2 separate regions of the Homo sapiens genome follow, and region 1 is linked to region 2. Evidence: fine-mapped expression QTL. A gene starts in region 2. The other region holds a variant in brackets. All regions are shown on one strand. Distances are between the middles of the regions.

What was found. PIP is the estimated chance that this variant, and not a neighbour inherited with it, causes the effect.
Region 1: its variant is the best candidate, but not a certain one, in a credible set for the expression of NCAM1 in pancreas (GTEx, PIP 0.56).

The regions. Positions count from the first base shown.
Region 1 is chr11:112,613,148-112,618,522 of GRCh38, forward strand. No RefSeq gene overlaps it. Among named protein-coding and RNA genes, the nearest start is that of LINC02764, 60 kb to the left of the region's middle. The variant C/A (reference allele first, on the strand shown) is at 2,698.
Region 2 is chr11:112,958,707-112,964,081 of GRCh38, forward strand. NCAM1 (neural cell adhesion molecule 1) reads left to right here and starts at 2,714. Exons shown (of 20, transcript NM_181351.5): 1 at 2,714-2,958. The coding sequence starts at 2,907. NCAM1-AS2 (NCAM1 antisense RNA 2) reads right to left here and starts at 4,754. Exons shown (of 3, transcript NR_120563.1): 1 at 4,504-4,754; 2 at 2,661-2,770; 3 at 573-2,145. RefSeq lists an enhancer at 2,657-3,434.

The DNA.
Region 1 (5,375 bases), 350 kb before region 2:
TTACAGCTGCCTCAGAGGCCACCTGACCCTGATGCATCAATCCCTGGAGTGAGGCCAAATCACCACTTAAAATGACAATTCTGTACAAAGTGGCACAATGACATGTTAAAAATATATAGATGAATATAGATGTAATATGAAAATATGTATTTTTACTGCTCTCCCCATCAGAAGCAGGCATGTTAAAGGTATTAATCGGCATTCCTCTCCAGAGGGATCCTCTAGTTATGTGCTTTGGAAGCCAGACAGGAAGTGTGAATCATGCAGCAATGCAAAATTAATCCAGACAAAATGAAAAATGAAATGATGCAGCCAAGGTATCTGGGATGGAGGGGCCAGGAGGGTGAGAAGTCCTACCCTGTCTTCCCTGGCTCTCTGCGGGAGAGGAAAGGCTTTATTTGTAGGGGGTGGTTGCTGAGGGACCTGGGACCTCCCCAGAGCAGGATGAGTTGATATGTTCTCTCATTGCCGAGGAGTAGAATACCTGGGGAGGGAAGGTCAGTGCAATGGCCCAGGCTTCCAAACGGCTGGCCCTGACTTTGAGGGCACCTCGAAACTGGTTGAAAGCTTGGCAGGTATACCCGGAAGACACAGATGTGGTTCCTGTCCTCCCACCCCCACAGTGCTGGCTCCAGACATGTGCAGAGTTGGAGGTGACTCAGACCGTGCACGCACCTGTCCCCAGCAGATACTACTCCTATTGTAGGGAGTGGAAATTTCCCAGAGTAGATTCCTTCTTCAGAGGTGGGAAACACAGAAACAACCTTTTCTTTGTATCCAGATTTTTTTTATTTTTAAAAAAGACAAGGGCTCTTTCTGTTGTCCAAGCTAGAGTGCAGTGGTATGATCATAGTTCACTGTAGCTTTGAACTCCTGGGCTCAAACGATCCTTCCATCTCAGCCTCTGAAGTAGCTGGGACTACAGGTACATGCCACCACACCTGGACAATTAAAATTTTTTTTTTTTTTTTGTAGGGATGGGGGTCTTGCTATGTTGCCCAGGCTGGTCTTGTACTCCTGGCCTTAAATGATCCTCCCGCCTTGGCCTCCCAAAGCACTGGGATTATAGGTGTGAGCCACTGTGCCCAGCTTATTTGCAGATTTTAATTTCCTAAAAGCCTACCCATGGGTAATTCCTGAGTGTTTTTCTCAAATAACCCCTCAGTTCAGACAGGAGAGATAATCTTTTGTTCCTTCCTGTTTAAGGACAGAAAATGACTTTTCTTCTCTTAAAGTATCTTTCCATTGCAGGCAACTTGCTCTGGGTCTTTGTAGTGAGATGTGAAATCTCTGGTCCTGACAGACTCCATGGATCACATTTCTGGAGTGAAAGAGTAATTAGGTAGCACGCTTTAGTGTTTTTCAGCCCCTTCTGGGTTTACTGGCAATCACACTGCAGTTTTCTCTTTCTCTGTCAGCTTTAGTATTTGCTACTCTGTCTATATCCTTTTTACTCTTGTTTTAGTTTTTGGAGTTCTAATGTCTGTCTTTTTGAAAACTTTTAAATTCAGACATAACCTGCACAGAGGAAACTGTACACTAATCTCACATATACAGCCTCAATGAGTGCTTCTATAGGAAGACGTCTGATAATCCCCTACCTAGGACACAGAAAATCCTACCTAGGACACACAAAAAGGAGTGTACCTGAACAAGACCAGTCCTGTTTATTCTGAGTCATCTGCTCTTTCTTGAGGCAAATGGGACACTCAGTCAGCCAGCTACCCTGTCAGAGGGAGGGTTGATGGGGCTGGGGGGCACCTACCTTCCCAAGCACAGTAGAGAGCTACAGAGCTCAAGTTCAACCCAGGTCAAGTTGAACAACACATCAAGCCTCCTGGGAGGGCTTCCTCTTGTCCGTTTCTCAGTCCATTCTACCCCACTCCCCAGGCCCAAGCCCATCACTCACTTCTATCATGGTAGTGAGATTTTTTTTTCTGCAGTTTCATATGAATGGACTCATATAGTATAAATTCTTGTGTCTGGCTTTTGTTCATTCAACATTATGTCTTTAAGGTTCATCCATGCTGTTGTGCGTGTCAGAAAGTTTTTTATCTTTAATATCATGTAGTACTCCATTATATGCATTTACAGAATTTATTTATTCTGTTGATGAACATTTGGGTTGTTTCTAGTTTGGGCTAATAAGAATAAAGCTGCCTTGAACATTCTTTTAGATTTTTAGTTGTTGTTGTTTTAGTGAACATATATTCTCATTTCTCTTGGGTACACCTAGAGTGGCATCACTGAGTCATAGGCTATGTGTGTGTCTAGCTTTGGTAGATCCTTCCAAATCATGTTCTAAAGTGACTACAACAATTGACACTCCTACTGACAGTCTATGAGTGTTCCACTAGCTCTATATCCTTTCCAACACTTGGCTCTGTCTCTCTTTCTACTTACAGTTGTTTATATAGGTAGTTGTGTGCTTGCTTGCTCAGGGCCCCTTACTCCTTAATCAAACCCTAAATTTCCCAAAGCATACTGTGCAGGGATTGGGGTAAACAACTTCTTGGGCTGTACCAGTGTTAAAACCAAAAGTCTCAGGATTCCTGGGAATCCTCTTAGTCCTAGGCAAACTGGGATGGTTGGTCACCCTAAGTGCAGTATAATGGAAAGGAAACATGCTTTGGCAAGAAACTATTCTGGTATGAATGCTAGTTTATTCACTAACTAGTTCTTAGTTAAGGGAAAAAT[C/A]AGTGGATAGATGGGTAGACAGATGACAGAGCAAATGTAGTAATATGTTGATAGTAGAAACTAAATGATAGGTATATGATGTTAACTGCCAATTCTTCTCACTTTGCTGTATGTTTGGAAATACTAATAACAAAATGTTGAGGGAAAAACAAAATGGAAATAATGCTTGTTGTTTGTAAGGGCATCAGATCTCAGAACTCAGAAGTGACTTCTTTCCTGTTATGAAACAGCTAAAAAGAACAAATGCCTTCATCATCCTGGTCTTTCAGTTCAGCTGCCCCACCTAGTTCCTCTATCTCTAAAAACCTTTCAGAAGAAGAGAGACAAAGGATTAAATAGCAAATAAGAGCAACTGGAGAGAACTTGTTTTTAAATTCCAGCAGTCATATTGCTTTGCTCATAGTCTTCTTGTGAACAGAGCAGGAAGCTTGGTGTCACCTCTCTGCCCCCCATGACCTGAGGCTGGTCACAGGTAGAATAGGCTGGGCTATTAACCATGACCTGATACCTGCTTGAGCCATATTCTCCAGCCTCTCTAGATTCTAACTTTGCTGTCATCGCTTGCAAAGCTGACTTACTTTTATCCTCTTTCAAAGACATCTCTTGTTCCCATGGCAACTTACTGGGGGTCTTCTATCACCATGGGAACATGGCTGCTGGGTTTAAATACACCTTATAACCACAGCAATAAAAAATATGGGGAAAGAGGGAGACTGGTTGTCAAGGAAACAGGCTTCAGGTCTTCTCCATGAGAGATAAGCTGGAGAAAAGGAAGTGCTGTGGGGTGTTTGGAATCAACACAACGCCCAATCCTGGTCCTGCTGGGACAGCCATTCATTGTGCAGATTCCAGGGCGTGAGTGTGTATGCAGAGATCTTTCTGTGTTGGCCATCTGAACAACCCCATAGGAAAACACCTTGGGGATTTCAAGGGTCTCACAGGAAGCTGTCATATCTCAACCTGAGGAATAGAAGCAGCATGGTCTCTCTCTCTTCACACACACACACACACACACAGACACTGGGCAGGTCACTATGGGGCATCTTTCGTATTATTAAGAGGGCAGCAATTTTGTGGTGAGCAGCCCAGGAAAACCAAACCAAAAGAGCAAAGATCAAAAGGGCTTAAGAAGGGCTTAAGTAATGGGAAATATGAATTCTACCTAGGACACAGAAAAAGGAGTGTACCTGAACAAGACCAGTACTGTTTATTGAGTCAAATGCTCTTTCCTGAGGCAAATGGGACACTTAGCTACCCTGTCAGAGGGAGGGTTGATGGGGCTGGGGGGCACCTACCTTCCCAAGCACAGTGGAGAGTTGCAGAGCAAAGGAAGGCACTTGACCCCTCCCCAGTGGAGGGAAAAAAAAGCCATGGAAGAGGCATGGTGAATTCCTAGATCATAGGCTTCCGACGACATCCAGTACTGTGCACAGTGACACTAAATCAATGTCACTGCTCTGAGAGATCCAAAGAAACAAAGCAAATACCACCTAATTCAACTCTGTATCATTCCTACCCAAGTGTCCATGTCCTTATGCCCATCTGGGAATTGTATCTCTAGCAGGCTCAGTTCAAGGGAGAAATACGAACAAACATATCTAGGCCTGGCTGACAGCTCTCTCCCTTTTCAGCAGTTTGCAGAATCCCAGGTCCTCAGACTCATGTGGTTGCTCAGAGCCACCCATGGCGACATCCTGCCCAGCTTGACCCTCTTCTCAGCCCATTCCCACAACCCCTGACCTCTCACCACATCAGAGTTTACCTTTTTTCCCCATAGGCATGGAGTAGGGGAATAAGAAAGAAGAAAGACAATGTTCTTAGAAAATTCTGGGTTTGAATTGCAGCCTCACCACTTTTCAGATCCATGACCTTAAAGGAATCTCTTACTTAAGTTTCTATTTCTACAACAAATTCATAAAATAATTTTAAGGATTAAATGAGATAATGAACATAAAAATGCACCACAAACTATGGATGCTATGCACTTATGAGGATTGACTATTAAACCTCTGGGGAGCACCTTTCCATTCTAATGGGGGGGTGTTAGACTACAGGAGTGATTCTGAGGGGGGCCAGTCCAGGTCTTGCTCAGAGCCAGGGATGTGGACATTTCCCGTGGTGAGCCGATGTGCACAGGGTCTGTATTCTGCCTCCCTGGATGCCCCTCAGAGCCAAGCACTGTGCTAGGTTCATAATAGGTTCCACAGTGGCTGCTGATGGACACAGGCATGGTGTTATTGATGAAGACTTTTGGTGCCCTTCACATTGCTCCACATAGGTGGGAGCCAGTGTGTCCACCATACCCATGGGGCAGGCAAGGCCTCTCCAGCAGTGAGAGCCAAACAGCCCAGGTGCAGACCCAGTGGAAGCAACCATGTGGGGCAGCCGCAGAGGCAGGGCAGGAAGGCTAGGCAGTGCGATTTTCCCCCAGGACTGCCATGATTCACAGTCTGGCTGCCCGGAGGGGACCTCTCTGCAGCTCTCGACTCCATTATCTTCAGCTCACTCCCCACCCCTGGCCACTGCCCCATTTTCTCCTCTTAACACTTGCAGGCCACCCTGGTAATAGCTCCAGGAAAGACAGATTATCAGTCCCTCTCCAGAAAGGACCAATTATTCATGGCCTCACCTAGAGTTTTATGGGAAAAAAAAAAAAAAAGGCAAGACGAGCACCATTT
Region 2 (5,375 bases):
CTCTGGGGAGAGAGGTCCAGTGAGGGCCACAGTTTTGTCCATTTTAAAATGAGGATCAGGAAGGGATTGAAACGCAACAGAGCTCACAGATGTAGGCACCGACTAGCGGAGATATACAGAATTGGAGACAAGTGACATATCCTGTTAAAAGAATTTGGGAGTGATACTGGGAGTGTGGACTGGAATGACTGGGGCAGCATTCTAGAATGAATCATTACAACAGAGATCAACAACCACACGGGGTAGGGAGGGGCTGGAGAGAGAGAGGGAAAAAAAAGAAATTCAGTCATACTCAAGTGAGATTGGATTTCCACACTTGCCTACATTGAAAAGCTAAAAATAGGGACATTTGGGGAGAAAAATAGTGAGGAGTCTTTTAATTCTACTGACAGGACTATAAGGAGGGAGGTTTGCAGGGAAGAATGTGTCTCTCACTCTTAGGGGCAAAATTGGAAAAATTTTTATTTTGGGGGCCCCAACCTTCACTCTCCCCACTCTACCCCCTGCCTGTTCTCTCTATCTTTCCTCACCATCAAAACCTCTTTTTTAAGGAAAGAGTCTGATAACATTCATTTACATAAATCTGTAATATTTAATGTGGTGATTTTAGATGTTAGAAGCAGAAGTCTGAAATCAAAGACACTTAAATACAGCAACCATTAAAAAAAGACGTATATAATTCACTGCATCTAGCACAGGGCTAAACCCAGTGGTTGCTCCGCAAATATTTGTTGAAAGATGTTCAAAAAAGCCTTATTTATATTATCAAACTCCACAAACAATATAAATATGCAAAAATGGGGAAACCATTGCAAAATCATCCATATGAAGAAATATTACATAGCTATAAAAATATCTAGAAAAGCTTTTTAATGATCCAGAGGAATAAATGCTTATACTGATGTTAGGCAAAATCAGCAGGATTCAAATTGCTACTATAATATGTCAATTATAAAAATCATATGCACATACAGAAGACAAAATCTATGAGTATCTCTGGAATCTGTGGGATTTGGGGTTATTTTTAGTTCTTTCTACTTTTCTGTACTTTTGAATTGTTTATACTTGGAATGAGAGAAATAGCCCAAAGTAAACGTTGTGGAAGATTTACTTGGGGGAAGAAATACTTTTCAGGGGTCCAAGCTAATTACACTGTACTGGTGTGGCCCACTTGGTCTATTATAGAGGAGGAAAGTGGGGAAGAGATGGGGCCTGTCCAATAAGGATGGATGTCCTGACAGTAGAGGATGGACTTTTAAAAACTGCTACAGCGGCTGGGTGCGGTAGCTCACGGCTGTAATCCTAGCACTTTGGGAGGCTGAGGTGGGCAGATCACGAGGTCAGGAGTTCGAGACCGGCCTGACCAACATGGTGAAACACCGTCTCTACTAAAAATACAAAAATTAGCTGGGCGTGGTGGCGCGCGCCTGTAATCCCAGCTACTCAGGAGGCTGAGGCAGCAGAATCGCTTGAACCGGGAGCAGAGGTTGCAGTGAGCAGAGATGGCGCCACTGCACTGCAGCCTGGGCGACAGAGCGAGGCTCCATCTCAAAAAAACAAAACAGAAACAAAACAAAACAAAACAAAACAAAAAACCTGCTACAGGAGTGGGGAGGCCGACCTTTGAAGAAAAACGGAGTACCCGGTAACATTAGTGCTTTAATGCCTTTGAACTTATGCAGACTTCCTCTGTTAGAGGGTTTCAGTGTTCTAGGCTAATGGGTTAACCTGACATCTAGAACACCTTTCTCACATTAGTTCCTTACATACCCAAGCCTTCAGGTGCTGAGACATGATTCTTTTCACCCCGCTTTCTCCACCCCCTACTTTTGAAAACACGGGTGGAATTTTAATTAAAGCCTATTGTGTTGGTACCTCAGTAATATTATACATTAATATCTTTAAGAATTAAGGTCACGTCCCCATGTAAGAAAATATTATTTAATGACGCTTCTATATCATAATACCTATATAAAAGCCTGGCTATTTTAATAAAGAGACCACAGATTTCAGAATTTATAAACAGGAAAACATTTTCTTCGGGTTATTTCTGGAAATCTCTTCCAAACATCGGAGTTTTCTTCTAACTTAAGTCTCTTCCCACCTCCTTCCCAGGGGATCTGCTGAAGGGTGTTGTATGTCTCTCTGTGGGAGAGCAAACTTCACAGTTAGGATAAAACAAACAAACAAACAATATCCAAACAACACCCAGCAACGGCAACCCCCATCCCTCTCCAAAGTTCTAATTTCCCGCACTTAAAGTCCTGGGCTATCCTTGTGTTGCAAGGATCTTAGAATCGAAATGGAGGGATTTGACAACTTTACCTAACCAAATCTAAAATTTTGCTTTTATTATTTACTAGTTATCAAAATATGCAAACTGCTGATTAAGGAAGGCTGGGTAGCAGGAGCGCCTGCGAAGGCGTAGGGTAGAAGTGTGAAAAGAAATCCCAGCTCTCCCAGGGAGACTGCGTGTGAAAGAGCCCGGCTCCCCCAAAAGCTCCAGGCCGCGTTTTGCAGGCTTCCGCATCTGCCTCCCCTGTCTCTCTTACCTCCTTGATGTTCGGCACTATTTGTGGCCGGCGTGGTGGAAGGACACAGTGAGGTTCTCACCCCCGCCCCCCGCTCCTCGCTCCCATCCCAGTTCCATCAAAACGAACCCGGGCCAGCGCAAGGATCTCCGAGTTGCGAGTGTGCTGAGGCTGGGACTGTCACTCATTCTCCGATCAGCGCGTGAACGCAGCTCGGCTGCCGCTGGCAGGAAACAATTCTGCAAAAATAATCATACTCAGCCTGGCAATTGTCTGCCCCTAGGTCTGTCGCTCAGCCGCCGTCCACACTCGCTGCAGGGGGGGGGGCACAGAATTTACCGCGGCAAGAACATCCCTCCCAGCCAGCAGATTACAATGCTGCAAACTAAGGATCTCATCTGGACTTTGTTTTTCCTGGGAACTGCAGGTACATTTTTTTTTTTTTTAATTCTCAATCTGGTTTGCTAATTACCCCTTCCTCCTACTCCTAGGAGGAACGCTATTATTTTGGGTGGTTTTACGTGGACTGCTAAGGCTGGTCATTTTCGTTTAGCTGTGAAAGGAGCGCGTCGCCCTTGCTGCCCAGCCGAACCCCGCTCCCTCCAGGGCTGCGCTGCACGGGGCTGCCTCCCCGAGCCGCCAGCGCCCGGCGCCCCTCCGGCGCGTCCGCCCTTCCCACTTTGTGCGCCCGCGGCGGTGGGAGCAGAGCCGGCCGGCTCCTGGGGACTCAGCGGCCGCGCTGGTGATGGGCAGCGCTCCTTCCCCAAAGGCGGGCGGCGGGGCGGGGGAGGTCGCGGCTCGGGTGGTGCCGCCGCACGGGCTCGGATTCCGAGGGGGAAGTGGCTTGTCAGCCCCGGCTCCGGGAAGAGTGAACAATAAGGCTAGGGCAGCCGCCCCAGATCGTTATATTCCTGGGTCTAATAAAGTCAGGATCGCTGCTTTGCTTCCCCCGCCCCAGAAGAATAACGGTTTGCAAAATGGGGCAAAATGGGCAGAATCGCACGGCCGTTGTTGTTGGTGTGACCGTTGTTGCACCCCAGTCGACATGACGTTAGTTTTTCATTTGCCAAATTGCTGGTTAGTTGCAAAGCCTACCCTCGGCCGCGAGCACTGAAGGATGGGAGGGTCGAGCGCCGCGTTTTGACAGGAGGAAGTGCGGAGGGGCGGAGGGCGAGGAGGGCGTGATTGGGGCTGCCTGGTGTGTGCGCGCGCGTGTGCGCGCGTGTGTCTTTACACGCGCCGCGTGCCCAGTGTTGCACGGGGCGGGAGAAGAATGGCAGGTAGCCGCCCGAAACACCTCGCCCTGTCTCCTTTCTTTGGGCGAGGTTCCCGATCCTGGCAAAGTGTGAACAATAGGGAGCTGGGAGGAAGACAGTAGTGATGCTGCCGCGGGTGGCGGGGGTTGCGCCGCCGCCCAGAGAACCTCGGCAGTGTGCAGGGAGGTGCATTTCATTTTGGCTATTTCCATCCCGGCCTCCCTGGAAAATTCTTCTGTGCGTGCCCACCCTCCCCTCCAGCTGTCATCCCCCCACCTCCACCCAAGGATTTGCGCTTTGGCTCTGATGGACGGGAGGGAAGGAAGAAAAGCAGGGGCCGCAGAGAGCTGGGTGGGTTGGGCGGACATTCTGGGCGGGGGGCGTGTGCTGGGAAGCGATCGAGGAAAGCCGGGCGGAGGGGCTGTGTGTCGCGGTCGCAGCTCCAGGTACCGTTGTACCTGCCCTGGACGGCCGACCCCCGGTTGGGGAGCGCACGGGGCGGGCCAGGGAGCACCCAGTGCGCCCCCTCCGCGGGCGGCACAAGAGCAGCGCTCGGCCGCCGCCTCCAGCCAACTCGGGTCCCTCCCACGGCGACCAATCAGTGCGAAGCTGGCTGGGCGGGAAGCCGCGAGAGGCTTTTATTGCGGCGCGGGTGGCGGCCAGGAGCTGCCAGGACAGTCTCCCGGTGCTTCAGCCTAACGGTCTCGCTCACTCACCGCCAAGAGAAACCCCGCCCTGCGGCCGGTCCCCCGCCTGCCCGGCAGTTTCCGAGGAAATAAAATGGAGACTAGGTGGTCACCGGGAGTGCTCCTGGTCCGGCCGCCCGTGCTCGCCCACTCTCGCCTCTTTCACGCCGACTTGGAGCATCCCACCGCCCCCGCCAGCGCTCACTCTCGCGCCGCGGAATCCGGGCCTGAGCGCGTCGCCGGGGAGGGCATCCTGGCAGGCACACCTACGCGCGTGCGCTGACCGGCCGACCGCGGGCCGGGGGCTCTACTGACGGCGGGGCGGGGCCGTGGCAGGGCCCGGAGAGGAGGGGTGGGGACCAAGCCTAGTCCGCCTGGCCCTGGGTCTCCGCTGCCACCTGGGCGGGGGCCACCCCGGTTATGCCCCTTTCCGCGGTGCCCGTGGGTGCCGCGACGCGACCTGTCCACATGGGGCGGGGGAAGGGGGGTGTTTTTGAGACATCCTCGCCCCCGGGTGGGAGCGTGACAATGGAGCCCGGATATTTGGTGGGCCTTTTGGGGGATCGCCTGGCGGTCCTTTCCATCATCGTGATGGGTACAGTCATCAGTATTTGGATCCCGTGGAAGTTGCAGGCCCAGGAATTCCCACTGGGATGTTCCTGGATGCCCAGGCAGGGGAGGCATTCTAACCAGTGTTCCCTGGAATGAAAGCGACCTCTTTCCTGGCCCGGTACCTTGAGGATGGGAAGAAGGCAGAACGTGAAACACATACAAGGTTGCTTAACAAAAGAAAGAAGTTGAATGGTTTTCCAAAGAGAAATAATTTCCCATTAAAATGTCTTTTGTACCATAGTTTTTTTTTAAAAAAATCAAAGAATTCAAGTCAAAGGGTTAGAATGAAA